6 linked regions of the Homo sapiens genome follow. The protein of the gene in region 4 purifies or fractionates together with the protein of the main gene of each other region. This does not show direct contact. Each region holds a gene or a part of one and is shown on either strand. Other genes may lie near its edges.

Evidence for each region.
Region 1: the proteins of TTC5 (region 4) and TCP11L2 purify together in Homo sapiens (affinity purification with mass spectrometry; one large-scale study listed by BioGRID and IntAct). This does not show direct contact.
Region 2: the proteins of TTC5 (region 4) and SCIN fractionate together in Homo sapiens (co-fractionation; one large-scale study listed by BioGRID). This does not show direct contact.
Region 3: the proteins of TTC5 (region 4) and SERPINB8 fractionate together in Homo sapiens (co-fractionation; one large-scale study listed by BioGRID). This does not show direct contact.
Region 5: the proteins of TTC5 (region 4) and GMDS fractionate together in Homo sapiens (co-fractionation; one large-scale study listed by BioGRID). This does not show direct contact.
Region 6: the proteins of TTC5 (region 4) and SWAP70 fractionate together in Homo sapiens (co-fractionation; one large-scale study listed by BioGRID). This does not show direct contact.

Annotation. Positions count from the first base shown.
Region 1 is NC_000012.12:106,343,744-106,348,492, reverse strand, and holds the end of TCP11L2 (T-complex protein 11-like protein 2), read right to left. Parts: intron 2,208-4,749; coding exon 1,963-2,207; 3' UTR 1,490-1,962; downstream 1-1,489. UniProt on the Homo sapiens protein: Promotes the migration of muscle-derived satellite cells (MDSCs) during differentiation throught interaction with FMNL2 and therefore may participate in microfilament assembly.
Region 2 is NC_000007.14:12,643,020-12,647,882, reverse strand, and holds part of SCIN (scinderin), read right to left. Parts: intron 3,746-4,863; coding exon 3,568-3,745; intron 3,300-3,567; coding exon 3,178-3,299; intron 1-3,177. UniProt on the Homo sapiens protein: Ca(2+)-dependent actin filament-severing protein that has a regulatory function in exocytosis by affecting the organization of the microfilament network underneath the plasma membrane.
Region 3 is NC_000018.10:63,982,632-63,987,494, reverse strand, and holds part of SERPINB8 (serpin B8), read right to left. Parts: intron 3,917-4,863; coding exon 3,774-3,916; intron 2,403-3,773; coding exon 2,250-2,402; intron 1,238-2,249; coding exon of another isoform or gene 1,229-1,237; exon of another isoform or gene 845-1,228; intron 622-844; coding exon 217-621; 3' UTR 1-216. UniProt on the Homo sapiens protein: Has an important role in epithelial desmosome-mediated cell-cell adhesion.
Region 4 is NC_000014.9:20,292,045-20,296,907, reverse strand, and holds part of TTC5 (tetratricopeptide repeat protein 5), read left to right. Parts: intron 1-461; coding exon 462-518; intron 519-1,053; coding exon 1,054-1,200; intron 1,201-1,381; coding exon 1,382-1,596; intron 1,597-4,780; coding exon 4,781-4,863. UniProt on the Homo sapiens protein: Cofactor involved in the regulation of various cellular mechanisms such as actin regulation, autophagy, chromatin regulation and DNA repair.
Region 5 is NC_000006.12:1,930,675-1,935,537, forward strand, and holds part of GMDS (GDP-mannose 4,6 dehydratase), read right to left. Parts: intron 1-4,863. UniProt on the Homo sapiens protein: Catalyzes the conversion of GDP-D-mannose to GDP-4-dehydro-6-deoxy-D-mannose.
Region 6 is NC_000011.10:9,666,641-9,671,503, reverse strand, and holds part of SWAP70 (switch-associated protein 70), read right to left. Parts: intron 1-4,863.

The sequences.
Region 1 (4,749 bases), on a different chromosome or scaffold from region 4:
GGTGAAGGTTGTGGTGAGGAAAAGAAGGTTGGGGAAGAAAGGAATGCTTCTTTTTATTTTCTACCCACTCGACCTCACCAAATTACTAGGGCTCAATTGAGTCCTTAGCAAACAAAACAATCAAAAATGTATTTTATGCAAATGAAGCTCTTTTTAGACCAAGTACCTCCCAACTGCAGTGCTTCCCGCAGCACTCCAAGAAGAGTAATTCCAGGATAAGCAGATTTCTCTAAAGTCTCAGTGGCAACTAGTGCCCAACTTTGCAAGGTTTGATTTAACGCTCAAGAATGGCAAATGAGGCCGGGCGCAGTGGTTCACGCCTGTAATCCCAGCACTTTGGGAGGCTGAGGCGGGCGGATCACGAGGTCAGGAGTTTGAGACCAGCCTCACCAATGTGGTGAAACCCTGTCTCTAGTAAAAATACAAAAATTAGCTGGGCATGGTGGTGCATGCCTGTAATCCCAGCTACTCGGAAGGCTGAGGCAGGAGAATCACTTGAATCCGGGAGGCAGAGGTTGCAGTGAGCCGAGATTGTGCCACAGCACTCCAGCCTGGGCAATAGAGTGAGACTCCATCTCAAAGAAAAAAAAAAAAAAAAAGAATGGCAAATGAGGCCGGGCATGGTGGCTCACGCCTGTAATCCCAGCACTTGAGGAGTCCGTGGTGGGTGGATCACGAGGTCAGGAGTTCAAGACAAGCCTGGCCAACATGATGAAACCCTGTCTCTACTAAAAATACAAAAATTAGCTGGGCGTGGTGGCGGGCGCCTGTAGTCCCAGCTACTCAGGAGGCTGAGGCAGGAGAATTGCTTGAACCCAGGAGGCAGAGGTTGCAGTGAGCTGAGATCACGCCACTGCACTCCAGCCTGGGCGACAGAGTGAGACTGCGTCTCAAAAAAAAAAAAAAAAAAAAAAAAAGGCAAATGATAATGATCCTTAGGAGGGCATCTTGGTCATAACACGGTAAAGCTTTCATCAGCACAAAAGACATCTGGTAGTTAAGTTATATGGGTAAGAAATCCAAAGTTTAACTGTTTCTTTTTCAGATATGAACTTCATGGAGAATGGGATCTCATTTTATCATTGACTCCCTTTCTTCTTCTTACAAGTAAACCAAATGAGCCCTGCCTCACATAAAAATATTAAACTCTTATATAAACCTTATCAATGGCCTGAGAACTGCAAGGACATTCACTAAGAGATTTGTGCAAAAATTGTTTTTCTTGGAGAGCAGACTAAATTGTAAGAAGAAACAAACTTCTAGAATAATTTGAGAAGGGAGTTGCTTCTATTTTCACTAAACAAACAAGGGAGGTTTTATCTGAAGTTTGTATATAGCATGAAAATGTACTTAATACATTAAAATTCTAAATAAATACTGACCATTGGTATTATAAAGTGTGATTTGGTACATTTGTGGAATTTGAGGACTTACTTTGAAAGTTTCTATTAACACATTAATAAAATGTAATTGTACATTTCAAATACAATTGTGTTTACTTCACATCATTTATTCAGAACATCAGTTCCCTCAGTTATTGTCACAACCTTCAACCCTTTAAGGAGTTGTACCAAAATTAAAAACCATTAGGTTTGATAATAACAAGTGAGAAAAACAACTCCTTAGGGGTTAAATGTCATAAGCCAAATATAAATGGTTAAGAAAACATTTACAAGTATTATATAGGTAATATAATTAATTACAAATTGTTTTCTGTTCATTACAAATATTTGTTTTAAACTTGAAAATGATGCACAAATAGGGTCTATGTGATGTTTACGTCTTCTGAGGGTCTATGTGATGTGTGTGTCTTCTGTAATGCTAATATTACCCATTACACAGATTTGGGCTAATACTGCACCACAGTACTGAGAATGTGCTGGATCTCTAATGCCATCAATGGAAGTGGACTGGATACCAAAGTACTGGATTTCCAATCTCTCGTCCAATGTCAGTTCTTCTTTAGTTAGTAGGAGGTGAAGCATCTACCTTCCCCATGGCTTCCTCATTGAAGAGCAGCTTTCGAAGTATATTTGCATAAAATGGTCCATACACTTGTTTGTTGAGATTCACAATGTTTGCATATTGAGAGCCTAGGGCTTCTAGCTCCTGCTGAATGACAGCTAGGCCTCCTGGCATAGGAGGCATGCATTTTTGAGGGCTTGGAAGACAAAGTAGCCTTCTCATGTAAAGCTTAATTCGTTTATCTGAAGGGGAAAAAAAGATACTTTTATCTGTCCATTATTAAAGTACATAATTTTTAAAAACAAGAACAAGTAATTGTAGTAGGTTGACTGCAATAATGTTCCCAATTCTTTACCCCTCCCTGCACCCATCCCCTTTCCAAGGTAGCTTTGCAGTTCCTCCTATCAAAGCTGGAGTGTGTTTTTCCCATCCTTTCCATCTGGGCTGGCCCTGTGACTTACTTTGGCCAATACAGAATGCGGTGGAAATGCCAGAGTACCAGTTTCATGCCTTGGCCTCAAGAGGCCACTCTTGTTCATGTCCACCGTCTACCTACTACCGCCATGAGAATAGGCCTGGGCTTGCTGGAGGATGAGAGACCAAGGAGAGGGAAACCCAGCTGTTCCATCTGAGGCCATCCTAGACCAACCCATAGCCAACCAGCATTCAAACACCTGAGAAAGTCCAGCCAGGATCAGCAAAGCTTCCATCCTGAGTCACAGCTGAACCACAAATACATTAGTGAGTTCAGCAAGACCAAAAGAGCCACCCGGTCGCCTCACAGACTGGTGAGTAATAATAAATGCTTATTTTTTTTAAGCTCAGGAGTTTTGTGGTATTTTGTTATGCAGCAATAGCTGACTGATAAAAAAAAAAAGGCAGAGCCCTATTTGGGGGGAATCTTCTACAAAAGTTAATCCTAAATGTTCATGATTATAATTACATACACTAAAGCTGAGTTTGTAAACTGGCATTGCCAGTCTGGCCCATGCAGTGTCTTTTTTAAAAACAGAAGCCATTTAAAATCAGGAGATTTCACATAGAAATCCATATTTCTGCTTTCTCTTGAAAAATCTAGAGATCTGGCAAACTTGGGGGCCCAAATTACCACATGGCAAGGGGGACCACACATCTAGGTTTCCCCAGGACAGTCAAAATTTACACCTGTTGTCCTGGCATAATTTTAAAAAGAGACTCTCAAAAGTACCCTGGTTGAACAATAAATTACATGGTGCCAGGCGTAGTGGCTCACACCTGTAATCCCAGCACTTTGGGAGGCCGAGGTGGGAGACTGATTGAGCCTAGGAGTTCGAGACCAGCCTGGGCAATATAGTGAAACTTCATCTCTACAAAAAAAATTTAAAAATTAGCCAGGCATGATGGTGTGTGCCTGTAGTCCCAGCTACTTAGGAGGCTGAGTTGAGAGGACTGCCTGAGCTCATGAGGCTTCAGTGAGCTGTGATCATGCCACCACACTCCAGCCTGGGCAACAGAGGGAGACTCCATCTCAAACATAATTAATTAATACTAAATAAGTTACAGGGTACTTCACACATGGCCAAGAATCAGGAGACACTGAGGAAGGGACATCCCAACCAGCACACCATTGTGCCACCTTCCCTGCCCTTCCTGCATCACTGCCTCAATGTATTTGACTTTGAGACGACTACACAAAAGCATAGAAATGCATATGGAAATCAGGCTGCAATAGTATAGGACAACTATTAATAATACTGGACAGAAAAGACCTGCTATAGCTCAGGCTGCTCCAAGGGCTTTCTCTGGCTTTGGGAACAGAAACCTCACCAATAAGAAGGTTTACTAAGGAAAATATGCCACATTGAATATAGACAACTATGATACTACTAAAATTCTTATCACCAAAGAATGCTCACAAAAATCATACATTCCAGCTAGGTCTGACCTAGAACTTGTTTCCAATGTCTATGTCTTAGAATTCTTTCCTTTTACTAGAATGCCCTTCAATCTCATCTCATTTCATCTCATCTCTGCCCAGAATCAGAGGCATCCTTCAATGTCGTGCCAAAAGTTACCTCCTTTCTGTGACTTTCCTTAGCATCTGTTACCAGACTATCGTGACATATGATTGCCAGTTGAGAAGGTGTCTCTCTCCCTTCTTGGACAGTGGACTCTCTGAGCGTGAGGTTTATATCTTTTTTATCTTTATATTCTTGGTCTGTCATGTGACAGACACATTGTAAATGCTGACTGAACTTAAGTGAGAATGGACTGAAAAGAGTCTATAAAGATAAATAACGAACTGAAAACCGTGGCAGCCAGGGGAAAATGGGGACTGAAGAAGGCAAACAAAGGTGACTTAAGCCTTATCTGTATTTTTTTTCTTTTTTTATATATAGACAGGGTCTCCATCTGTTGCCCAGGAGAGTCTCAAACTCCTGGCCTCAAGCCATCCTCCTGCTTTGGCCTCCCAAAGTGCTGGGATGACAGGCATGAGCCACCGTGCCTGGCCTTTGTCTGTAATTTTTCTACAAGGAGAAATTATTGTATCACCTGTGCAACTGAAATTACTTGTTAAAAGTGTAGATGGCAGGCCAGGCACAGTGGCTTAGGCCTGTAATCCCAGCACTTTGGGAGGCCAAGGTGGGCGGATCACGAGGTCAGGAGTTTGAGACCAGCCTGGCCAATATGGTGGAACCCCGTCTCTACTAAGAATACAAAAAAAATAGCTGGGCTTGGTGGTCCGCACCTGTAGTCCCAGCTACTAGGGAGGCTGGGGCAGAAGTATTCTTCTTGAACCCAGGA
Region 2 (4,863 bases), on a different chromosome or scaffold from region 4:
GAAAAATATGTATAAACTCAAAACATGCGCCCAGCATAGATAAACCTAGTTCCTGGCAGCCTGCAGACATCTGAGCATGACAATTCATGTTTGTTCTAATCTGATGAGATTTTGAGATTGTTATACAAAATAAACAAAACAAAAAACCTTGACCATTTAGAAGGCAAAGGATTTGTTTATATTATCTTTTTAGAGGACATACACCAATCACATAATCATTTTAAAAAGAAAAACTTTAGCACTTAACTTGACGTCAGCACTGTTCTAATGTTTTATATGCAACAGCTAAGTTAATATTCACAGCTCTATGAAGTAGGTACTAAGATTACCACCATTTTAGAGTTGAGACAACTACAGCCCAGACAGGCTCAGTAACCAGCCTAAAGTCACACAGCCAGCAAGTACTACCACCAGATAAGTGACAGCACATGGGCAGATTGGTTCTAAAAGCTGTGCTTTTAGTTAATAAGCTCTGCTGCCTTGTAGCTGCCTTGTAGGAATCTACACGTGTAAAGCCTACTTTCTGATAGTAATTATAAGATCAAAGATTTGTTAGCAACAATCCTTTGCCTTAAACTATAAAGGGAGCAGAAGGGGTTCCAAATATCAAACAAGAAAATGAGTTGGTGCAGAGGAAATGTATATTTCTCTTAAAGGCTAATATATACGCATAACAAAAAGCCAAAGACTAACAGATCTTTTTTCTTTAAACACACTGAGAACAAAGCCTAGGTACTTATTTTTGTAAAATACATTTTTCTTGGAAACAAACAACTAATTTATAGCAATGTTAATAAATAATTCTAATAAGAAATTATAGGAGCATATGCTGAAAAATAAGTTGCTTGGATGCAATATCAAGTCAAAACAATAAAACAGCAGATTTTTCTGATGACAAATCTATAAAATATAGCAAGTTCAGGGATTTCCTGTAAAGTAGGTGAGCAAATTGTGGTATACAGCAACCAAATATTTATCTCAATGCACTGTTTAAATCTTTAACTTGTAGGTCAAATCATTTATAACCTTCAAGGGAGACTTGAACCACTTCATCTCAAATAATTTTATTTCTAGTAATCAAAATATCTGACAAAATACGTGGGAAATTTTCTTTCCTGTGTTGAAAAATGAAGTTTGCATTTATTCACTAGGGCATGTTGACCAAAATCTGTGGATCAAATTTTATATAAAAGAAGAATTCATTCTTTAAATGAAAAATTTACCAAAAACTTAGCACGTCAAACAGAGAAAGTATAACTTTTTTTTTTGAAATTTAGGTGAGAGGCTGTGGTTCAGGATGATATTTCAGAGCCTAGTGTAAAATCACTCCTGTATTCTTTTGTATTGGATGTTTGTTTGCCTCCAGAATTCCTATGCTAAACCCCTAGCCTCCAATGGCATGGTAGTAGGAGGTGGGGCCTTTGGGAGGTAATTAGGTTCAGATGAGGCCATGAGGGTACAGTGCCCCTGCTTAGTGTCTGTCTTTATAAGGAAAGAACACGACTAGAGCTTGCTCTCTTGGCCATGTGAGGACACAAGAAGGCTAGACAGTGGTCCCTCACCAGACATCAGATCTGCTGTTGCCTTAATCTTGGACTTCTCAGCCTTCAGAACCATGAAAAATAAATGTTTGTGGTTTAAACCACACAGTCAATGGTATTTTTGTGATAGGAGCTTGAACTAAGACATGCATACACATACTTCTAATTTTACTTCTGACTGGACTGGAAGTCAAAGCTTGTAAATGACTATGAAATAAAACATTCCTGTTGATATCAGTTAATTTGTAACTGCATATATAGCTTTCTGTGATTTTTGCCCAATGATCATAATATTTCCATAATATTTTTAATTCAGTCAATATGGTGAAAATTTTTACTCCGCTGGGAAATTGACATGTAAAATTTACATAGTTTGATCAGAAATAATGATTGCTGCCCACAGAAAATGCCAAATTATTAAATTAACACATCTAGCCACATATATATTCATACAGCAACTGCATGCTCACACAGGTGTAAAGTAGCTAGTACTTTTAAGAACAGCTTAATCTATATAGGACATCACAACATTAATGCTTTCACATTAATTATATCATTAATCCTTAAAATACCCTGTGTAAGGAACAGAAAACCAAATACTGCAGGTTCTCACTTATAAGTGGGACCTAAATGATGAGAACACACGGACACATAGAGAGGAACAACACACACTGGGGGCCTATCGAAAGGTGGAAGGTGGGATGAGGGAGACGATCAGGAAAAATAACTAATGGATACTAGGCTTAATACCTGGGTGATGAAATAATCTGTACAACAAACTCCCACAACACAAGTTTACCTATGTAACGAACCTGCACATGTACCCCTGAACTTAAAATAAAAGTTTAAAAAAAATACCCTGTGTAGAGCAAAGGTTGTCACCGTGGTTTGTAGGCAGGCTGAAACTGAGATTCAGAACAGTAGCATGTCTGAAGGTGTCAGAGCCACATGGGAATGCCCTTCCCGGCGTTGTTAGGTTCTATCTCACTGTTTTTTGTTTTTTGTGTTTTTTTTGAGATGGAGTCTCACTCTGTTGCCCAGGCTGGAACACAGTGGTGCCAGTGGCACGATCTTGGCTCACTGCAACCTCCGCCTCCTGGGTTCAAGAGATTCTCCTGTCTCAGCCTCCCAAGTAGCTGGGACTACAGGCACCCACCACCATGCCTGACTAATTTTTGTATTTTTAGTAGAGAGGGGGTTTCACCATATTGGCCAGGCTGGTCTGGAACTCCTTGATCTCGTGATACACCCGTCTCAGCTTCCCAAAGTGCTGGGATTACAGGCATGAGCCACCGCGCCCGGCCCTTTTTTTTTTTTTTTTTTAACGGAGTTTTGCTCTTGTTGCCCAGGCTGGAGTGGAGTGGAGTGGCGCGACCTTGGCTCACTGCAACCTCCGCCTCCTGGGTTCAAGTGATTCTCCTGCCTCAAGCCTCCCGAGTAGCTTGAATTACAAGTGTGCACCACCACATCCAGCTAATTTTTATATTTTTAGTAGAGACGGTTTCTACATGTTGGTCAGGCTGGTCTCGAACTCCTGACCTCAGGTGATCTGCCTGCCTCGGCCTCCCAAAGTGCTGGGATTACAGGCATGAGCCACCGCAACCAGCCCTATCGCACTATTTTTAAGGACACTTACAACAAATCTTCCAGTTTTGTTAGAGCAGCCGTAAAGCCGAGGTGGATGGTCTTCAGCCTGGGTTTCCAGTAGTGGTGAGGTCTGGTAGTCTTTTTTCCCTCCAAGGGAATTCCAGAACTCCTCTGTGGAAAACACACTCAGTTATCCAGTGCATTTTCAGGGACATATGCTTGCTGTCGCTTTATATGAACAAATATTATCTCACCTTGATTTCAGTGTTGAGAAATTACTTAAAGAAATCAGGTACCATCACCCACCCACCTCTGCAACTAATGGAGAGATTGTTAACCCTTATAAGCCATTAGAAAGTGACTTTTTGGTGAAAAAAAGATGATTAGCAATCGTATCAGTATAAATTCTAGTTAGTGCCCTTGGCCCCAGAGCACACACCTGGCTCCTCGCCTTCTTGGATCCTTAAGGTTTTGCACTTTAGGACACTTGCTACATACTCTGCTCCTTTCTCCTCCTCCTGGCTAGCACCTTTTCCTACCCAGATGTAGCCACTATTTTGTGGCAGTTTCAGGACAAAAACATCGTTAGAATTCAGTGAATTTGCATCAACATCAACCTGGAATATGAAGAAAAATAAAACAATGATTCAAATTCATTGCTGCTCCCTCAATAAACATGTCCCAGAAGCTGTGACTGTGGCAAACCATACATCGCCTTCTGCCCTATCCCAGGAAATTAATTCAGAGCCGCTCTGGGACACCACTATGGTATTTTAAACCCTAGAGTAGGAGCACTTCGGTCTGTGTCACTTGTGGATTTGTGACTCTGTGTCTGTCTCTGTGAGAACTGTCTGACCATATGACTGTGCTACTATGTCACTGGTATGACTTTCTGTATAATTGTCAAACAAGTGTGATGTGTGATTCCAGAAAGAGGAAGAAGAACCAGTAAGCAAGACTGAGGGGGAGCAGCTGAGACGGAGGAGGAAAACAAGAGCGTAAAGTGATCTTGAGGCCAAGTGAGGAAAATGCTTCAAGAAGGCAGGGGTGATTTGCTGTGCCAAATGGTGCTGCTTGGCCAACCACACTGAACTGCCAGGATGAAGGCAGCCATGATGTGGAGAGTTGAATTTCACCAGGTTTGTCAGGAGCCTGTTGAAGGAGAGAACACTAGAGGTGGAAGGAATGGCTGTTGGAAGTTTTAAAGGAATGTCCAGGAATTGGGAACATTCAGGAAAATAGTTAAAGTCCTCTCCCAGCAGGAATGAGGCCTCACAGAACAAGCTCAAAGGAATCTATCAGATGTGATTATGGAGAATTACAGGAACCAAGTCTGGCTTCCAGGGCTTCCAATTTCTAATACAAACATCTCATTATGGGTACAGAGGAAAGAGCCCGGATGATGGATAGAAGCTGACAAGAGACCTGTGCCCAGACTGGTGTGAGATCAGGAAATGAGATCTAAAACAGAATCTTTATAAAGCCTTAGCCTGCCGGGAGATGAAGACAGAAAGACCTGTAAAATGATCTTGACTGGTGCATTTCAGAGAGGTTGGGAATGTGAAAGCTGGTTTGAGAGGCTGCAAGAAAATAAAGAGATGCACAGAAAGCAGCTGATGAGGTCTCACAAAGGAATGTCCACTGGGGAAGAGATCAGAATGTAACAATGGTGCATTTTGGTTGACTTTCCCATCTGAAATCAACTGAGAATGCCCGTAGATAATGTATGCTTAAA
Region 3 (4,863 bases), on a different chromosome or scaffold from region 4:
AAAACCAGCATAGCCTTCCCAGGCCCAAATTTCATGCATCTGCGGCCTCAGTTATTCTCAATGGCTCTGGAACTTTCAGCAAAGACTTTCACACACTATCCAGTGCACACGCTTTATTTTGGCATTCAAGCCACTGCACCAACTAGGTCACAGGGAATGTTAATTAAGGCAAGATAGGTAGAAGGAAAGGAGGGTATGTACAGCAATTGCTCCTCTTTACGGAGAAGAGAACCTGCCACAGAACAAGATGCAGTTGGTTTTGTGGTGCCTGATGAAGAAAAGAAAAGGGTGGTCTGCACAGAATCTTGGCTCCATTCTGCTGCACCGGGAATTCCTGACCACAGCAGTGGCTGCGGCAGCCTCTGTGCCTTCCTCATTGACCTCCACGAAGCACTTGTGGGCAACCTTGGACAGAGGCACATTCTTCTCAGTTGACATTCCAGAAAAGTCTGCCTTGGCTTCGTCAAAAGCATCGATCATTCCTAATCTTCGAAGGAAAGGCTCCAAGTCATAACTCTCCTCCAGCTTTAATCTGGGAAGGAAAACTTGAACCTTACTTTTTGTCAACTTTTCTGAATTTGTCCAGGCTTTGAATTTCTCATATGTAAGTGCTTTTTCCACCTAGGATAAGAAAGACTCAAACCTTAAAATTTAGATGACAATAGCCTGATACCCACACACCCATTTATTACCCCTCCCCCAATGACATGCAATTAGATGGTGAGTTCTGGTCCAAGAAAATCTACAGATATTTTCTTTTATAAACACACCAAGATTTTCTCCCAAATTTTCATCTTTTCACAGTTTTATGGAGACAAGTGTAAAAGAGCTAGTAAACACCTGAGACAGGCAGAAATTTTTAATAAAAACAATTTGTACCTAACTCCTTTCAAATGTTAAAAACATTTTTTAACAGTTTAGAAAATTCTAACCAATTCATTACATTAATCTTCATGCAATACATACTACTGTGAGTGGGAGAGATTGTTTGACAAAAGACAAAGAGCATGGCTCAGAACTCTGCTTCTGAGTCTAATGAGGGGACTATTCAGGGTTAAATCAGAGGGCAACTCAGAGTAAAAGAGAGGGAATTGTGTTTCATCTGAAGATGAAGGGAGGCATGAGAAGGGAGCATGAGACGAGAAATGGGGAATGCAAGAAGACTTCATCAGCATCCTTGTTTGTCCTCTGCCTGTCCTGGAGTTAGCTTCAAATTCTTCAAGATCCATCACTCTTTCTATTTATCAATAAGGTAGAAAGAAAAAAGGGAGAAAGGCCTTCCACTAGCATCTCCCCTTCCCTTTAACAACTGGAGCCCAGGTGGGTACTCCTCTCCAACGAGCATTGTTTTGATTTTGACTCTATTTCTAGACTCTCCTAATTTTCTCATAAGTGGCCACAACAGATGTCATCCCTGACTTAGGGCAGTAGCTTTCTGATTCCAAAGGGAAGCCAGGAAAATCAAGCAGCCCACCCTCAACATCCTGTGCATTGGTGTGCCAGAGCTGACCCCTATCAATTGTTAAACCCTCAGTAGACTAAAGTCGGCCATGGTGGGAGTATTTACCATGTCATGAGAATCAGCAAACTTTATAAATGAAGGCTTCTCCCACCTCCCAGAGCTGGTTTACAAGTGCACTATTAGTCTTGCACCTCCTACCTTGCAAGTTTACCACTTCCCTTCCTGGACTCTGTTCCTTTTCTGTCACAGTAAGACTTTTCTCTCCTCTTGTATAAGGTAAATTTCCCACCTGTACTTTAGACTTTTGCTATTCATAGTGTGGTTCCAAGCATCTGTATCACTTGGAATCTTGTTACAAATGCAACATCTCAGGCCACACTCCATTGAATCAAAATCTGCACTTTAACAAGATCACTAGAATCATATATGTGCATTAGTGTTTGAGAATCACTGCCAAGATTGATCCCTACCCTTCTTCCAGGACTTTTGTGCAATAATCATTGGGCTTTCAAATAGACCTTCCATGCAGAATAAAGAATAATATTCCAAATAATAATATATTTAGAACTCTCTCTTCTTAGCTTCATCAAAACTTGTCCACTCATATATGTATACACTCAACAGAAATGCATGAACATGTTCATCAAAAGACACACAATGATGTTCACCCAGCACTGCCTGTAATAACCCCAACTGGAAACTCCTCAAATGCCAATTGGTAGATGAACATAAAGAAATGAGCTCAGCTGGACTCCACAGATACTCAGGCTCATTGCCTGGAGCTTACCACGGCGAGGTCCGTGTTGTCATCGGGAAGCAGAATGACCATGCTCAGCTCCTCTTCCACATAGGGCAGCTCCAGGACCTGGGTGTGTACCTCATCCGCATACCCCATTTTAAACTTAGCTTCCTTAAACATCATCTGCACTGTCTTTTTTTCCTAACGGAAAAATTAAAGTTCGATTACTGAAAAGTGGGTATAATTTACTAAAAATAGGATATATCTAACTCACAGAAACTCTAGGTGTGTATAATTACTGTTTCTGCACATTTATGCTGATAGATATAAAATCTTCATTAGTACATCTTAGTATTGAATAGAACAAGCTATTGTTCCAGCAGATCAAATATTACCAGGTGAGAAAAAAAAAACAGTTTGGTAAATGGAGAAGGACACAAAAATTGACATTATCCTTGGAAGAAGCTGTGTTTGCTTTTTTGAGAACATTCACAGAGAAGCTTTCTCATGGAAGCTTCCAACTAAAAATTCTTTATCGAAGTTAAGATAAATATTCAGGCCCTTGGGCTGAAGGATCTGGTTAGAAAAGATGTACGGTCCAAACTCTGGAAAGTTGCCTTGTTGTAGAATTGGTTTTATGGCCTTGGCTTTCTTAGGAAGGGGACCTTGAAGAGATGTGTAAGGTCTGCTGTTTTTAAAGCCTGCATCAAATATATTTTTAACTTTCATATCTTTGTGCAATATGAGAGTATCATATTTGATGGATGTCAAATCCCAAGCTAACAACTATTGATACCAGCCATTTTAATATTCAAAAGGGAAGGTAAAGTTAGGCTTTACATCTGCTAACTTTTTTTTCTTGTGCTCAGGATTGTATAACTTTGACTTTTAAGGCAATAAATAGGCATAGTTGCCACTGATATTGCAAAAAGGTATCTAACTAAATACAGAGAGTAATAGCATCATGCAAACATAATTCCAAGGCTTAGAAGAAATTCTCCTCCAATCCAAATCATATGACCAGAGATGGAAGGTAGATTTGATCAAAGATGGAAAAACAAAACTATCAATACCAAAATTATTTTTGTTTCTCTCTTCCTTCCGCCATTAAAGATACACAGGAGGCATTAAATTCATTCAGAAAAGAAGCCAGGCACAGTGGCTCCTGCCTGTAATTCCAGAACTTTGGGAGGATAAGGCAGGTGTATCACTTGAGGCCAGGAGTTTGAGACCAACCTGGGCAATATGACAAAACCTTATCTCTACAAAAAATACAAAAATTAGCCAGGCCTGGTGGTGTGCACCTGTAGTCACAGCTACTTGGGAAGCTAAGGTTGGGGAATCATTTGAGCCTGGGAGGTCGAGGCTGCAGTGAGCTGAGATTACACCACTGCACTCCAGCCTGGGTGACAAAAAGAGACCCTGTCTCAAAGAAAATAAAATAATATAATATAATTCAGAAATAGATTAAAATCAAGATCATGTCAAATAAATTATTCATTTTTCCAAGAGAATATTTCCTGTAATATTACTTTAAGAAAGTAGCAGTATATCTGAAAAATCTTTCCCTACCTCGTTGGTTTTAAAGAGCATTCCCCTTGTGTACTTTCTGTCAAATTGCTCATTCCACTTTCCCTTGAAATAAATGGCATTCACAAGGACCAGCTTTGTCAGGGGATCGACTGTCCCAGCATCCAGTACCTCTGAAATCTTACCTATAAAGAATATGAGAGTTTATTGCAATTTGTGGGGAAATAAGCATTCTTTTACAAAAATCCCTTTGACACATAAGGCAGAGGCTTGGTTGAGAGACAGGCTGGAGTTCTGTCTTTCTGGGCCCCTGATGAATTAGGCGATGGTGTTTAGCAGTGTGGCATACACAGTGTAACATTTGTGCTTAAGAAAAAAATCTTGAAGTAGGAAGGGCAACTATCATTTTGCCCTCAATTTATGGATGTAGAAATTCAGGACCAGAGCATTTGCCAGACTTTTGCTGAGTGCACACAGGTGACAAGTGGCTGAGTTGAGAACATCACCCCAGAGTCTTGATTCTGACTATGGGGCAGTCAACCTTGGCACTATCATATCCAAGCCTCACCGCTATTGTCATTTTAAGCCAGATAATTCTTTGTTATGGGGGCTGTCTTGTGCATTGTAGGATGTTTAGCCAGCAGCATTTCTTCCCATTTTGACAACCAAGATTGTCTTCAGCCATTATCCAATGGCACCTGGAGGGCAAAGCTACCCCTGGTTGAGGATCATTGCTCTATGCATATATTCAAACCTCATCAGACAAGGAAAGCTTTCCAAAGGATGAGAGAACACAGATCTGTCAATGGGAGAAGGCAGCCTCTCTGAAGGGGGTGAATGGGGCAAAGGAATTAGGGGGGTAGAATAGAGGGGCCCAAATTGAGTTGTCCAATGAGAGGGTAACAAGGTCATCTCCAAGGTCCCCTTCAGCTCTAATATTCTGGGGGAAATGTGGGTGGTCAGCCTAAGGGAAGGAAGGGCATAAGCAGCCCTGGAAGAGCAGTGACAGGTATAGGGCAGTGGGGGGAAGGTGTGGAGAAACTTCTAGGTTCCTCAGGTGACAGTACTGTTGAACAACTGGAAAGACCACTAGGCAGATGATGTATGAAAACACAAAAGGCTCTTCCCTTCC
Region 4 (4,863 bases):
CTGAGTAGCTGGAATTACAGGTGCATGCCACCATGCCTAGCTAAGTTTTGTATTTTTAGTAGAGACAGTGTTTCACCAGGTTGGCCAGTCTGGTCTTGAGCTCCTGACCTCAGGTGATCTGCCAGCCTTGGCTTTCCAAAGTGCTGGGATTACAGGTGTGAGCCACTGTGCCCGGCCCACATATTTCATTTATATAAAGATTTATTCTATCTTAATACTACTACATGGATAAATTATAATAATATTTTGAAGTCTCACACATACAAAAACACTTATATCCCTAAGGTTTTGGGACTAAGATATCCACACTGTTATACGGTAACTGCTTCTGTGGTATAAATACCATTTTGGCAAGGAAGAAACTTCCATTTCTCTAGAAAGAGGAGGCGTAGGACATGTTGGGCATGTCAGTCCTTAACATTGAGACAGGATCCACTGATAATCTTTTCATCCCATTATAGGAGAAAGTTGACAGAAAAGCTTCTAGCAATCCTGACCTTCATCTGAACAGGGCGACGGTAAGACCTTTGGGGTGTAGTCATCTGAGGGTCAAATAAATAAGACACCTATGTCTTAGCTTGTGAGGATAACTGAGTTTGCATAGGGACAAGATTGGGTACAGACTGCGAGAGGAAAGCCATGCTATTTCTATAAATAGCTAGCTCGGTTTGGCTTCAGTATCTGGTGTAGTCACTGGAGGGAAAGGAGAAGGGGCTGTGGAGGTGGAAGAATAGGTAGAGAATGGGGGGATCTTTTAGAAGACTTCTGAAATGTTAAGTAAATATAAAGGTCAAGTGAGCCAATATATACAACTTAACTATTTTAGAGTTTGGAAATTAGCTTCTTTGAAATGATTCCATCTTTGGGGTTGTGATCATCTTGGCTAGGAAGAAGGATGTAAGGTGTTACCAGCTCTTCAGGCTGTTTGTTGCAGCACAGGAAAATAACCAGGAAGGAAAACAGTTTATTTCTCTAGATTCCTAGCCCATGGTGCCATTCCCTCGGGATAGTTTGTCTGGATATACTTATAATTGGGATACACTTCTTGTACAGTTGCATAAATATGAAGAGAGTTATGGGGAGGCCCTGGAGGGCTTCTCTCGGGCTGCAGCCCTGGACCCTGCCTGGCCAGAGCCCCGGCAACGAGAGCAACAACTTCTGGAATTCCTGGATAGATTAACCAGCCTCCTTGAGAGTAAGGTAAAAATGTCTGAAGGGCTGAATTCCACTTTTTTTTTTTTTATTTTGTCGTGGGTCAATAAAATAAGAATAAATAGGTTTACGAGGTAGAGACCCTATAGAAGTGGGTGGGAGGGAAGGATTAGAATCTCAAGGAAGGCGACTAGTTTCCAGCTTCTTACCTATTTCCCCTTCTTTGCAGGGAAAGGTGAAGACCAAAAAGCTGCAGAGCATGCTGGGAAGCTTGCGCCCAGCCCATCTAGGCCCTTGCAGTGATGGGCACTATCAGTCAGCCTCTGGGCAGAAAGTGACCCTGGAGCTCAAGCCACTGAGTACGCTTCAGCCTGGGGTGAACAGCGGTGCCGTCATCCTGGGAAAGGTGGTATTTAGCCTCACCACAGAGGAGAAAGTCCCCTTGTGAGTTTCTCTTGGATTTCCCCCATTTTACCCTTTTGAACTAATTGCTCTCACTTCCTGTTCTTTCCCTGGCAGTTGAGGAGATTGTCAGTGGTCACAGATTTGTGACTTCTGATTTCCTTCTGTGACTATCCCGTGGGCAGATATTGTCTGGGTGATGTTTAACCATCTTTTGATCAGAGGCTTTTGTAGATTCTGTCACTGCCCATTTTGTATCCCTGAGTTTGGTGCTATGTGGATTCCTATATCCATAGTTGAAATTTGGCAGGACATATTTTTTTATAAGACAGAAACCTCAAAATTCTTCTGTCCCTTTGCATTTTCATGATCATAGAAGTTGAAGGAGGACAAATTTCTTAGTCCTGTTTGTACTTAGGTATACTTAGTTCTGAAAAGTGAGCTTTGAGTTATAATTTAAAGTCTGGTTGGGAGATTGTCTTAGATGTCATTCAACAAATATTTATTGAGTGTGTAATATATGTGTCATAGGGAGTGAGAAAAAAGAAATGTAAAGGACCCAGGTGCAGGTGCTTCTAGCAGCAGAGGAAATGAATTAAGAATATTTGTTTAGAAAATTTTTGGATCTTGAAAAGTTACGGTTTAGTGAATGCCACCACTCCTTGGTCCTTCACTCACTTCCTAATCCCTGGTTGACCGGTTTCCCCTTTCTCTTTTCTACTGAAATTGTTATTTTCCTAGGATCACCATTGTCTTTCTAGGCACTGGATCCAGCAACTTCTATTGCATGGTTCCAAAACATTCTGACTTATCTCTCACTATTGCTTTTCACATCCTTTCTGTTCATCTAAACAGAAATATTCACAATTCCCATTATATGCCCAAGCTTTCTCCATGGCATTTTCTAGGGGTTTGTATATTTGACGAGTTGAAGGGCAAAAAGATAGTTGAGAACAGTTTAGTTTACTAGAGCAAATCCTAGAGCTGAGAAGAATTAGAAAGGGATATAGACAAAGGTAGGTTTTGGAGGACCTTGAGAACAAATAGATATTTTGCCACTCCTTGGTTTCTCTTTTTCTGCCTAACTTTTAAATCTTAGGTTCCCAGGACTCTATTTTTGTTTTTTTCCTTTTTTCTCTTTATATCAGGATGGCCTATAGTTGCCAACTTTGATCACTTGTCAGTGGTTGCCTGACATACTGTGTAGAAGGATTCTGAGGCTTTGACTGGATTCATCAGGAGAGTGCTTTGCTTGATTGCAATATTTCCTGTGAATTCAGGCATGTCACGTGATGGCATGAGTGTGATTCTTCTCCATCCTGTCTATAGATCATCTTGCCCTGTGATGTCATATAAACCCAAGGCTTTGGCAGCCTCCTATATGCTTACAGATATATCTCCAGCCCAAGCTTCATTTCCAAGTGTTGGATTCCTATAACCATCTGCTTCTGGGTTCCAATAAGAAATCTCTAACTCAGTATTTCAGTATTACTCACCTAAATCTTTCTCTGTAAACCTGCTTCTCCTCCCTGGATTCCTTGTGAATGAATGGTATCACCTCTCAGTCACTTGATTAAGACTTTTGGAAGAATAGGCTTCTCCATTCTCCAAAAAGATTTGCCTTTTTTGTCCTATAGACTTGACTTCTCTGTGTTTACCACCTTAATTCACCCCCTTATCACTTCTCCAGATAGGTCTCCCTGATTCTCTGGTTTCCTCCAGTGTTCCACAGTGCTGCCAGAGAAATGTTTCTTAGATGGAAATCTGACCATTGCTACTTCTTATTTAAGATCCCTTACTGGTACTATATGTAGCTTTTGGGATAAAGTGTGAACTACTTAGGTTAGCATACAAAGTCCTTCATGATTTGCTCCCTGCTTCTCTTTCTATTATCTTTTGTCTCTTTCCCACCAGTGCCTTTTGTTTCAACCATGGAACAATTTTGTTGGTTTTAGAACAGCTGTTTTCATGCCTCTGTGTCTTACATACAGTTACTCTGCCTGGATAATCTCTAGCTTCTTCTTGACATAGCTAACATCCTCTTCTGCCCCCAACATTTTGTATAAAAATTTTCAAACATATAGCTAAGTTGAAAGAGTTTTACATTGAACATTTGTGTTCTCATCCACTTATATTCTACCATTAATATTTTATTTTACTTAGCTTATTACATATCAGTCTGTTTATCCTGCTATCAGAGTAAATTGCAGAGATCAATATACTTTACATACTTTAGCATGCAGTCATTAACTGAGTTCAGTATTTGTTTCAATTTTTTCTTTTTATGTAAAATTTACATACAATGAAATGTACAATTTTAAGCGTACATTTCATAGCTTTTAACAAATGGAAAATATCTGTATAACCCAAATAGAGATCATTACCACCATTCTGGGAAGTTCCCTGATGTTGCCTCCAAGTCAAAATCTCTGTTCCTATCCCCTCAGAGGTTTTTAACATTTTTACCGAGGATTAATTTTTCTCTTTTAACCCAGCTGGTTTTTTACCCTTTAAGATTCACTTTGAGCGTCACCTCTTCCAGGAAATCTTCCCTGCTTTCCAATTTTGATTTAGATATTTGTCCTCTGGGCTCCCACAGCCCAATCTGTGGCTTCATTGAATTCAGCACAAGGGAAAAGCTATTCTAGCACCCATCACACTGTGCTGTAAGTGATGACTTCATTGTCTGACTCCTGCTAGACTATAGGTCATTCATAGCTGGATTGGTATCTTATTGCTAAACACAATGCTTGGCACATATGTAATATTCAGTGAAAGTTTGTGGAGTTAAACTACACAGACAGTGATGGTTAGAGGCTTTGGTTAAGAGTATGATAGTTAAATTGATAGACCAGGAATAATGTTACAACTGTAACATGTTGGTCTAGTTCATCATTAATATTTGTTGAATGGCTTCAGTGTGCTTTGTCCTAAGTTCTTAGCAAAGTGACTGATGAGTTTCAGAAAAATGAAGACTCAGATATATAAAGTGGAAGATGGTACCTCTCATAGGTTTTCTGAGTAACTGAGAAAAAGCATTTGTTTATTTTGTTAGTATTTTATTTTTAAAGTTTAATTAAGTTAAATTTTATATTTTATTTTAATTACCTGTCACTGACTTTAAGTCCAGTATTTTGCTAGTATTTTTAAACCACTGTTTCTGCTCTTCTTTCCTACCCACATACCTTTTTGTTTTCCTCTCTCCTAATCTGTCTTTACTTGGTAGTACATTTGGCCTGGTAGATTCAGATGGACCTTGCTATGCAGTGATGGTGTACAATATAGTGCAGAGCTGGGGAGTGCTCATTG
Region 5 (4,863 bases), on a different chromosome or scaffold from region 4:
CTTTGGGACTCATGGGGAGAGAAAGAAACATAGCTTAGTTCACAGGGTAACTAGTTAAAGGAAACAAGAAAGGAATTTATTTAGGCTGCCTTTCTCTTAACAAAATAAGTGGTGATGGCTCTTATTTAGAAACCTGCACAGCCATCCAAATGATATGATATGGCCCCTGGGCAAAAGTTTCTCTGTACTATACTTAAGGCAATGCCACTTTCCAAATTCATTTCAGTGTTATTTACAGAAAGGGCTCCTAAATTTTGTGTAATATTTTGAAATGATTGGTTGAAAGGGGCCATATCTTGATGAAAGCACTGAAATTGTTTTAATGTTCTCTGGTCTTTAATGAAAACTCTATCTGCTTTTTCAAAGATCACAAAGTTAAAAGGCACTTCTGAGACAGTTTTACCTTGTTATCTAGGTAAGGTTATGAGAAAACACCATTTAATACCAAATTCTCAAGGTAATAATACTCATATTAGCTAGTTAATAATGGATTCATACAGTTTAGATATGTGAATATCATGATTTATCACATACCAATGACTTTAACTATGTTCTTTTGCAGATGAAGCAGGGAGGCAAATATTATGATCAAAGTGTTTGGCTTCTGGAGAGCTGGCACAGGGATAAGGGGAATATTTCTAAATAGGTTTTCCAAATTTTGGCAAGAACGTGGCTTAGCGCAAGTTCAAACATACACCAGATTCACTTACTCCACAAACTTGATACGTACATTTATACCTACACCATTATCATTAAGAAATACAATGGGACTACCGTGGAAATCCAAATTTTCAATTCCCCTTGTCAATTCAGATGGTATGTTAAGAAATACAAAGTTTCAACTTTCCACAGAGGTTTATATAGCACATAGAGGTCCTTCAAAAAAAAGTGCCTTTCGAAATGAAAAACTACTTATTAGCCAGTAAGTAATTAGTGGCTAATTAGTAATTTTAAAAATTTTTCTATTGACTTGTAAGAATTAAATTTAGGTTTTTTGATGTTTATCATTATTTCAATGTCAGGACTATACTATTTTCTCAAAGTATACTAAGAAACCAATGATGGCAAACTATTAAATGAAGATTCCAACATAAAACATTTCAGATTAACCTGTTTACCAGTAAAGTAATGTTTGGGAGTCCAATGGAAGTATTTGACCCTATTCATACAATTTATTGATTCTTTTACCCAGTGTTGACTACGCACCCACCAATCACTAAGCACTGAGCTAGGCACTGGGGATCTGGGAGAGAAGCAGCAGCCCCTGCTCTCAGGTATCACAGAGAGGGTCAGGTGGGCCAATAAACCAGTGCTGAACCTAGTAAAATGCCAGGTCTGCAAGGGGGGAAAGCCTTTGGGGTTGTAGCATGGCTGCCAGGCGCAACGCACGTGAGAAATGCCTACCAGAAATGGAGCTTGAATGGAGTCTACCAGTGAGGTCATGAAGGGACTCATCAAGCTGTGAGACAGGGTGGTACTCCAGGCAGGAGGAACGGCACTTGCAAAGATGAGGAAGGGCCTTTCTCTTCCAACTCTTACCACAACCTTATGATGGTTATGGCACCTCCAATGAGGGCTATCGCTGATAGCACTGTGCTGAGCTCTTTAGATGGGGTAACTCATTTAATTTTCCGAGCAACCCATGTGCTAATATTACCCCCATTTTGTACATGAAGAAGCTGAGATTCAGGGAAGCTATATAAATTAACTATTCTAAAACAGCATTCAAATCGAGAGCTATATGACTACCAAGTTCTTATATTACCAGAACTTTCATGTCGTGCTAGAAAGGTGGATCTTTTCTTATCTGGTTCCTAAAGTTATCTTGGATAACTAGCCAAAATTAACTATAATTTCTAATTCTTTTTTTTTTTTTTTTTTGAGATGGAGTCTCACTCTGTCACCCAGGCTGGAGTGCAGTGGCGCGATCTCGGCTCACTGCAAGCTCCGCCTCCCGGGTTCACGCCATTCTCCTGCCTCAGCCTCCCGAAAAGCTGGGACTACAGGTGCCCGTCACCACGCCCAGCTAATTTTTTGTATTTTTTAGTAGAGACGGGGTTTCACCGTGTTAGTCAGGATGGTCTCGATCTCCTGACCTCGTGATCCACCTGCCTTGGCCTCCGAAAGCACTGGGATTACAGGCATGAGCCACCGCGCCCGCTCAAAATGTAATTTTAACTATTATTTAGAACAGCTATTTTGAGATATAATTCACATAGCATACAATTCATTCATTTAAAGCATATGCTTCAATGGCTTTTCTTATATTCATAGAAATGTACAACCATCATCACAATCAATTTCAGAACACTTTCATCATCCCAAAAAGAAACCCTGTATCATTTAGCAGTCACTCACCAGTTTTCTCCTAGTACCCTAGCCCTGGCATACAGATAATCTACCTTTTATCTCTAGATTTGCCTATTCTGGACACTTCCTATAAATGGAATTATATTAATGTCTGGTCTTTGTTTCTGGTTTCTTTTAGTTAGCATAACATTTTCAAGGTTCATCCATACTGTAGCTTGAATCAGTACATTGTTCCTTTTTTATGGCCAAATAATATTCTATTATATGTATATACCAAATTTTATTTAACCGTCCACGAGATGACTATCTGTGGTGCCTCCATCCTTTGCCTTTTGTGAATAATGCTACCATGAGCGTTCATGCCTTTTTGTGAACGTATGCTTTAATTTCTTTTAGGTATATACCTAGGGGTGGAATTGCTGGGTCATATGAGAACTCTGTTTTACCAATTGAGGAACTGTAGACTTTTCCAATGTGGCTGCACCACTTTACATTCCCACCAGCAGGGTAACAGGGCTCTGATTTCTTCCCATTCTCCCCAGTACTTGTTATGGTCTGTTAAACTGTAGTCATGCTAGTTGGCACCGAGTGGTATCTTATTGTGGTTCCGATGTGTCCTTCTCAATAACTAATCATATGAAGCAACTACCTTTTCATGTGCCTACTGGCCACTTGTATATCAATTTTGGAGACATGTCTATTCAGATCCTTTGTCCATTTTTAAATCGGATTACTTATCTTTTTATTATAGAGTTGTAAGAATTCTTTATACATTCTGGATCCAAGTCCCTTATCAGCTATATAATTTGCAAAGATTTTCTCTCATTCTGTAGGCTGACTTTTCACTTTCTTGGTTGTGCTCTCTGAAGCATAAAAGCTTTTTTATCTTTTAATTTTGATGAAGTCCAATTTGTCTACATTCGCTTGTGTGGCAGATGCTTTTGGTGTCATATTCGAGAAGGCTTCGTTAATCCAAGGTCATGAAGATTTATTCCTATATATTTTTATGAGTTTTATAGTTTTTCTTCTTACATTTGAATTTTTGATCAATTTTTAGTAAATTTTTATATATGGTGTGATGAAAGGGTCTAACTTCATTCATTTGCATGTTGACATCCAGCTGTCTCAGTATTATTTGTTAGAAAGGTTATTTTTCCCATTCAATAGCATTTTCCTCAAAAATCAATTAATTAATGAAAAATGTGGGAGACAATTTCTGACTTTCAATTCGATTTCATTGATGTACTTACTCTATGTCTATCCTTATGACAGTACCACACAGTCCTGGTTACTGTAGCTCTGTGGCAAGTTTAAAAATTAGGAAGTATGAGTTCTCCAACTTTGTTCTTTTTTAAGGTTATTTTAGCTATTCTCTGTCCCTTGAATTTCCATATGAACTTTAGGATCAGCTTGTTGATTTCTGCAAAAACACCAACAGGGATTCTGAAAGGGATCATGTTGAATCTGTAGATCAAAATGGAGGCTATGCCCATGCTAACATTATTGTGCCTTCCGATACATGAATATAGGATGTCTTTCTCCTTTATTTTGGTCTTTTAAAATTTCTTTCAACAATGTTTAATAGTTTTCAGAGAATAATTTTTACACTTCTGCTAAATTTGTTCCTAAACACTTTATTCTTTTTTATTTTATTATAAATACAATTGTTTTCTTGATTTCAAGAAAAAGTTTTGGATTAATTTTAAACATTTTTGTAACCACATGTTTTACTACTTAATTCTCAAGAAAGGCTTAAAATGATTTTTTTTTTAAATTTGCTCTCCTCATTTTTACTCCATGTTACAGAAGAATGCTCTTTTAAGGAAGAAACTATATAAAAGCATAGAACATGAGGGCTGAGACTATCCCAAGTGAGAGGTGAAGAAAGAGAAACGCACAGAGGCTGCACACCTGTCCTGAGTCAGGACAAGTAGCCGAGCCGGACCCAGGCCTGTCTCACTGGCTTTCTAGCCTTGTGCTGTTTTGCTAAGCCACAGTGCAATGCAGGAGGAATCTCTTCTGCGATGAGATGACCTAAGTGTTTGTGAATTATTATAGCACATGTGGATAATGGAACCCCTATAATTAACTTAAATACATACTTGATTTATAAAGCCTTAAACTATAAGATTCTCGTTAGAAAGAGGACTAAGAAAAGTTAGCTCAATGAATGGAGGGAAAGCCAGCTCTGTTAGTAACCAGCTGTGATATCTTACACAAACCATTTAACCACTCTGAAGTCATAGTCTCCTCTGTGTACTACTTGCATATTAACATTTGCCATGCCAAATCACTGGGTACACTAATGTAGGTTAAATGGCATTTCTTACAGAAATGTAAGAACATCACTATGTCCTTGTTTGTAAAATAAGGATAGTAATAGTACCTAAAAGCTTTGATGTTTAAAGGAGAAAATCTAGGTTTTCTGGTTATCAGTAAGTACTCAGTAACTGTTAGACATTATTATAATGATTACATTACAATGTTAATGGTATCTACAATTAAGTCTCAATGGAAAGTTAAGATTTCTTAGTTCTTTTATTAATAGATGAC
Region 6 (4,863 bases), on a different chromosome or scaffold from region 4:
ATTTATATATATATTTATAAATATACTTTTATATATTTATATATATATTTATAAATATATTTTTATATATTTATATATATATTTATAAATATATTTTTATATATTTATATATATTTATATATTTTTATTTTTATTTTATTTTATTTATATATTTATATTTTTAAATATATTTATATATTTTTATATTTATATTTATAAATATATTTTATATATTTTTATATTTATATTTATAAATATATTTTATATATTTTTATATTTATATTTATAAATATATTTTATATATTTTTATATTTATATTTATAAATATATTTTATATATTTTTATATTTATATTTATAAATATATTTTATATATTTTTATATTTATATTTATAAATATATTTATATATATTTTTATATTTATATATTTATATATATTTATATTTATATTTGTATATATAAAAAACAATAATAGGCCGGGCATGGTGGCTCACGCCTGTACTCCCAGCACTTTGGGAGGCCGAGGTGGGTGGATCACAAGGTCAGGAGTTCGAGACCAGCCTGGCTAACATGGTGAAACCCCGTCTCTACTAAAAATATAAAAAATTAGCCAGGTGTGGTGGCAGGCACCTGTAATCCCAGCTACTCGGGAGGCTGAGGCAGGAGAATGGCGTGAACCCAGGAGGTGAAGGTTGCAGTGAGCCGAGATGGCCCCACTGTGCTCCAGCCTGGGTGATAGAGCAAGACTCCGCCTCAGAAAAAATAAATAAATGAAAATAAAAATAATAATAAAAAATTAACTCTCAAAGGTATGAGACCATGTTTTCCTTAAAAGTTTTCTCCCTCAGCTCCAGCGTTGCCCCAAAGGGGTTCTTATCTCTGATTTCTGGTCCTCTGCTTTTCTTGTTCCTCTCATCATCTACCATAGCCATTCCCCAAGACTGTCAATGGCTCTTTTCTCCTCTTTTTCCAAGCTTCAACTACCAAATTCCTTACTGACAACCCCAAATTTTCCCAGGAATATCATCTCCAGCTGAACATACACCCATCAAGGACCTCAAAAAAATAAATAAATAAAACAAAAAAAAACTTTTCGTGTTCAAAACTGCATCACTGCATAAACAGCTCCTTCTTGTGGCTTTTCCATTTCTTTTAAAACCCACTTCTATTAAAAACCATTATTTAAAAAAATCAAAACCACTACTACACATCTGGTCAACTGTAGTTGACATCTGAGACATTTCTGAATCTGTCCTTTCCCGTCCTCCTCCCACCCAATCATGGGTCAAGGCTCATACCTTGACCCACCATTTCCCTCTTGTCCATCTTCACTGTCTCTAGTCCCTATTACCTCTTATCGGGGCTATTGCAATGGTTTCTGTTATCTTCCCAATCCACTCTAGCCAGCACATCTGCTATGTCGCCCCAGCTGGAGTACAGGGTGAGATATCGGCTCACTGCAACCTCCGCCTCCCAGGTTCAAGTGATTCTCCTGCCTCAGCTCCCAAGTAGCTGGGACTACAGGTGCGTGCCACCACACCCAGCTAATTTTTATATTTTTAGTAGAGACAGGGTTTTGCCACGTTGGCCACACTAGTCTTGAACTCCTGACCTCAGATGATCCACTCACTTCAGCCTCCCAAAGTGCTGGGATTACAGGTGTGAGGCACCGCACCTGGCAAGTAACTTTCTAAAGTGCAATTCTGATCACAACTCATCATTCTCTGAAAACCTGGGGGGCCCCTGGCATACACCTAATTTGTGTGGCAATCAAAGCTTTCTATGCATTAACCCCAATCTATTTCTGTAGCTTTATCACCAGCAATAACTCTCTCTCATACACACACAGGAACACATATGTGTATGTTCTACACTCCAATCAAAGTAAGTTACACAGAAGTCCCCATAAATACCTGATTCATTCCCATCTCTTGCAGTAGATCAGTGTTCCCTAGGGATAACAGCAATCAATAACTATCCATTAAATAAATAAATTAGGCTGGGCGTGGTCGCTCATGCCCATAATCCCAGCACTTTGGGTGACCGAGGCAGGTGGATCACTTGAGGTCAGGAGTTTGAGACCAGCCTGGCCAACATGGTGAAACCCTGTCTCCACTAAAAATACAAAAATTAGCGAGACATGGTGGTGCACATCTGTAGTCCCAGCTACTTGGGAAGCTGAAGCAGAAGAATCTCTTGAACCAGGGAGGTGGAGGTTGCCACTGTACTCAACCCTGGGCAACAGAGCAAGACTCCGTCTCAAAAAACTAAGTAATTAATTAATTAATAGAATGGGCTTAATCTTCCCCCATTCCTACATAATCACATCCTAACTTCCTTCGGAGTTCATTTCAAAGAAGCTTTTTTCATAAAGCAATCACACCAGTGAGAAGAAATCGCTTCTTCCTTTAAAATCTCATGGCTCCATATCTTCTGTCACACTCAGTATCTTTAACCCAATATTTCTGTTTGTTACCTTCACCACCAGACTTTATGTTTTTTAAGGATCAGTAATTGTCTGAGTAATATAATCTCTATCTGGAGAGAGAGAGTGTGCCTTCTTTAATGGTCATTTAGCCTTTTAATTTGCCTACCAAAGTTTAAACTCTTTGAAGGCAAAGATTCATATTTGTTTCTTTTTTCTCTGCCTTTCACCACCATATCCCTTATCTAGTGAATATATCCATTCTCTGTGTCAAAAGTTGTGAAGATAACTCAAAAAGGCAAGTATCAAAAATATTTTAGAATACCCATATAGCTTTCCAAAGCAATACATTTTAACCATCATTTTGGATACATAATTATTAGTCTGCTGTTTAACAAATCAATTATTTGACATTTCCTCCAAGGAGATATTAACTCTTAAGAGCCTAAAAATACTAATCTTCTGACTAAATTAGCATGGTACCTTACACATAGTAGACTTACAGAAGGTTACTGTATGAGTGAATGAATCAATCAACAAATTAAGGCAAAAACTCTACTCCCAGCCAACAGAACACAGAACTAGGGTCAAACACAAAAGGAGACCTAAATAAAAATGTTTAAATATTTTCAATTCTACGAACACTGGCAAGATGAACAGAACTGAACCAATCCCAAAGTCTCATACAGACAAGAGAGAGACAAAATACAATTGCACAGTTGCATTATCAACATACTGTGGGTGAAATCTATGAACTGGGATTTAACATTTCCTGCCAAGACGCTTTTCCTATAAGCAGCCATAAAGACAATTTTGAATAAAGTATCATCAAAGTAATCCAAAAAATCTCATTTATGCCGTCAATTGGAAGAGAAGAAAATGAAGAAACCATTGGCTTTAAAGTGTGAAAATAGGCCAGGCATGGTGGCTCACGCCTATAATCCCAATGCTTTGGGAGGCCAAGGCGGGTGGATCACCTGAGGTCAGGAGTTTGAGATGAGCCCAGCCAACATGGTGAAACCCCATCTCTACTAAAAATACAAAAATTAGCCAGGTGTGGTAGTGGGCACCTGTAATCCCAGCTATTTGGGAGGCTGAGGCAGGAGAATCGCTTGAACCCAGGAAGCAGAGGTTGCAGTGAGCCAAGATCGCACCACTGCACTCCAGCCTGGGTGATAAAGCGACACTCCGTCTCAAAAAAATAAAAAATACAACAGTAATAGTAATAAAGTGTGAAAATAGGATGGGTGCAGTGGCTCGTGCCTGTAATCCCAGCATTTTGAGAGGCTGAGGCAGGCATATAGTCTGAGCTCAGGAATTCAAGACCAGCCTGGGCAAATGGCAAAACTCCATCTCTACATAAGTACAAACATTAGCTGGGCATAGTGGCCTGTGCCTGTAGTCCCATCTACGTGGGAGTCTGAAGTGGGAGGACTGCTTGAGCCCAGGAGGTTGAGGCTGCATTGAGCCATGATCGCGCCACCGCATTCCAGCCTGGGCGACAAAAAGACCTTGTCTCCAAAAAAAGAGAAAAAGAATTATAAAGAGTTGTCTGGACAAGGTGGCTCATATCTGAATACCAGCACTTTAGAAGGCCAAGGCGGGCGGATGTCTTTGAGCTCAGGAGTTCAACACCAGCCTGGACAACATGACAAAACCCTATGTCTACAAAAAAATACAAAAATGAACTGAGCATGGTGGCTCATGCCTGTGAGCCTAGCTACTTGGGAGGTGGAGGCTGGAGGATCGCTTGAGCCAGGAAGTGGAGGTTGCAGTGAGCCAAGATAGTGCAACTGCACTCCAGCCTGGGTGACACAGCAAGACCCTGTCTCTCTCTCTCTCTCTCTCTCTCACACACACACACACACAGAAGTGTGAAAATCTTGGTTCTAGATTAGCTACTACTTACAACTGTGACTTTGGACAAATCACTAAACATATCATTGCAGTTGCTCACACCTGTAATCCTAGCACTTCTGGAGGCCAAGTTGGTTAAATTGCCTGAGCTCAGGAGTTCGAGACCAGCCTGGGCAATACAATGAAACCCCGTCTCTACTAAAACATACACACAAAAAAATTAGTCAGGCATGGCAGCGGGCACCTGTAGTCCCAGCACTTTGCAGGGCCAAGGCGGGCAGATCACGAGGTCAGGAGTTTGAGACCACCCTGGCCAATATGGTGAAACCCCATCTCTACTAAAAATACAAAAATTAGCCAGGCTTGGTGGCACGTGTCTGTAGTCCCAGCTACTCAGAAGGCTGAGGCAGGAGAATCGCTTGAACCCGGGAGGCAGAGGTTGCAGTGAGCCGAGATCACACCACTGCACTCTAGCCTGGGTGACAGAGCGCAACTCCGGCTCAAAAAAAAAAAAAAAAAATTAAGAGGTCATCTGGGAATATCTGGAAAAAAAGAATAAAATTTTCTTCTCCTCTTAAGATCTTTAAAAGAGAAATGATGGTTG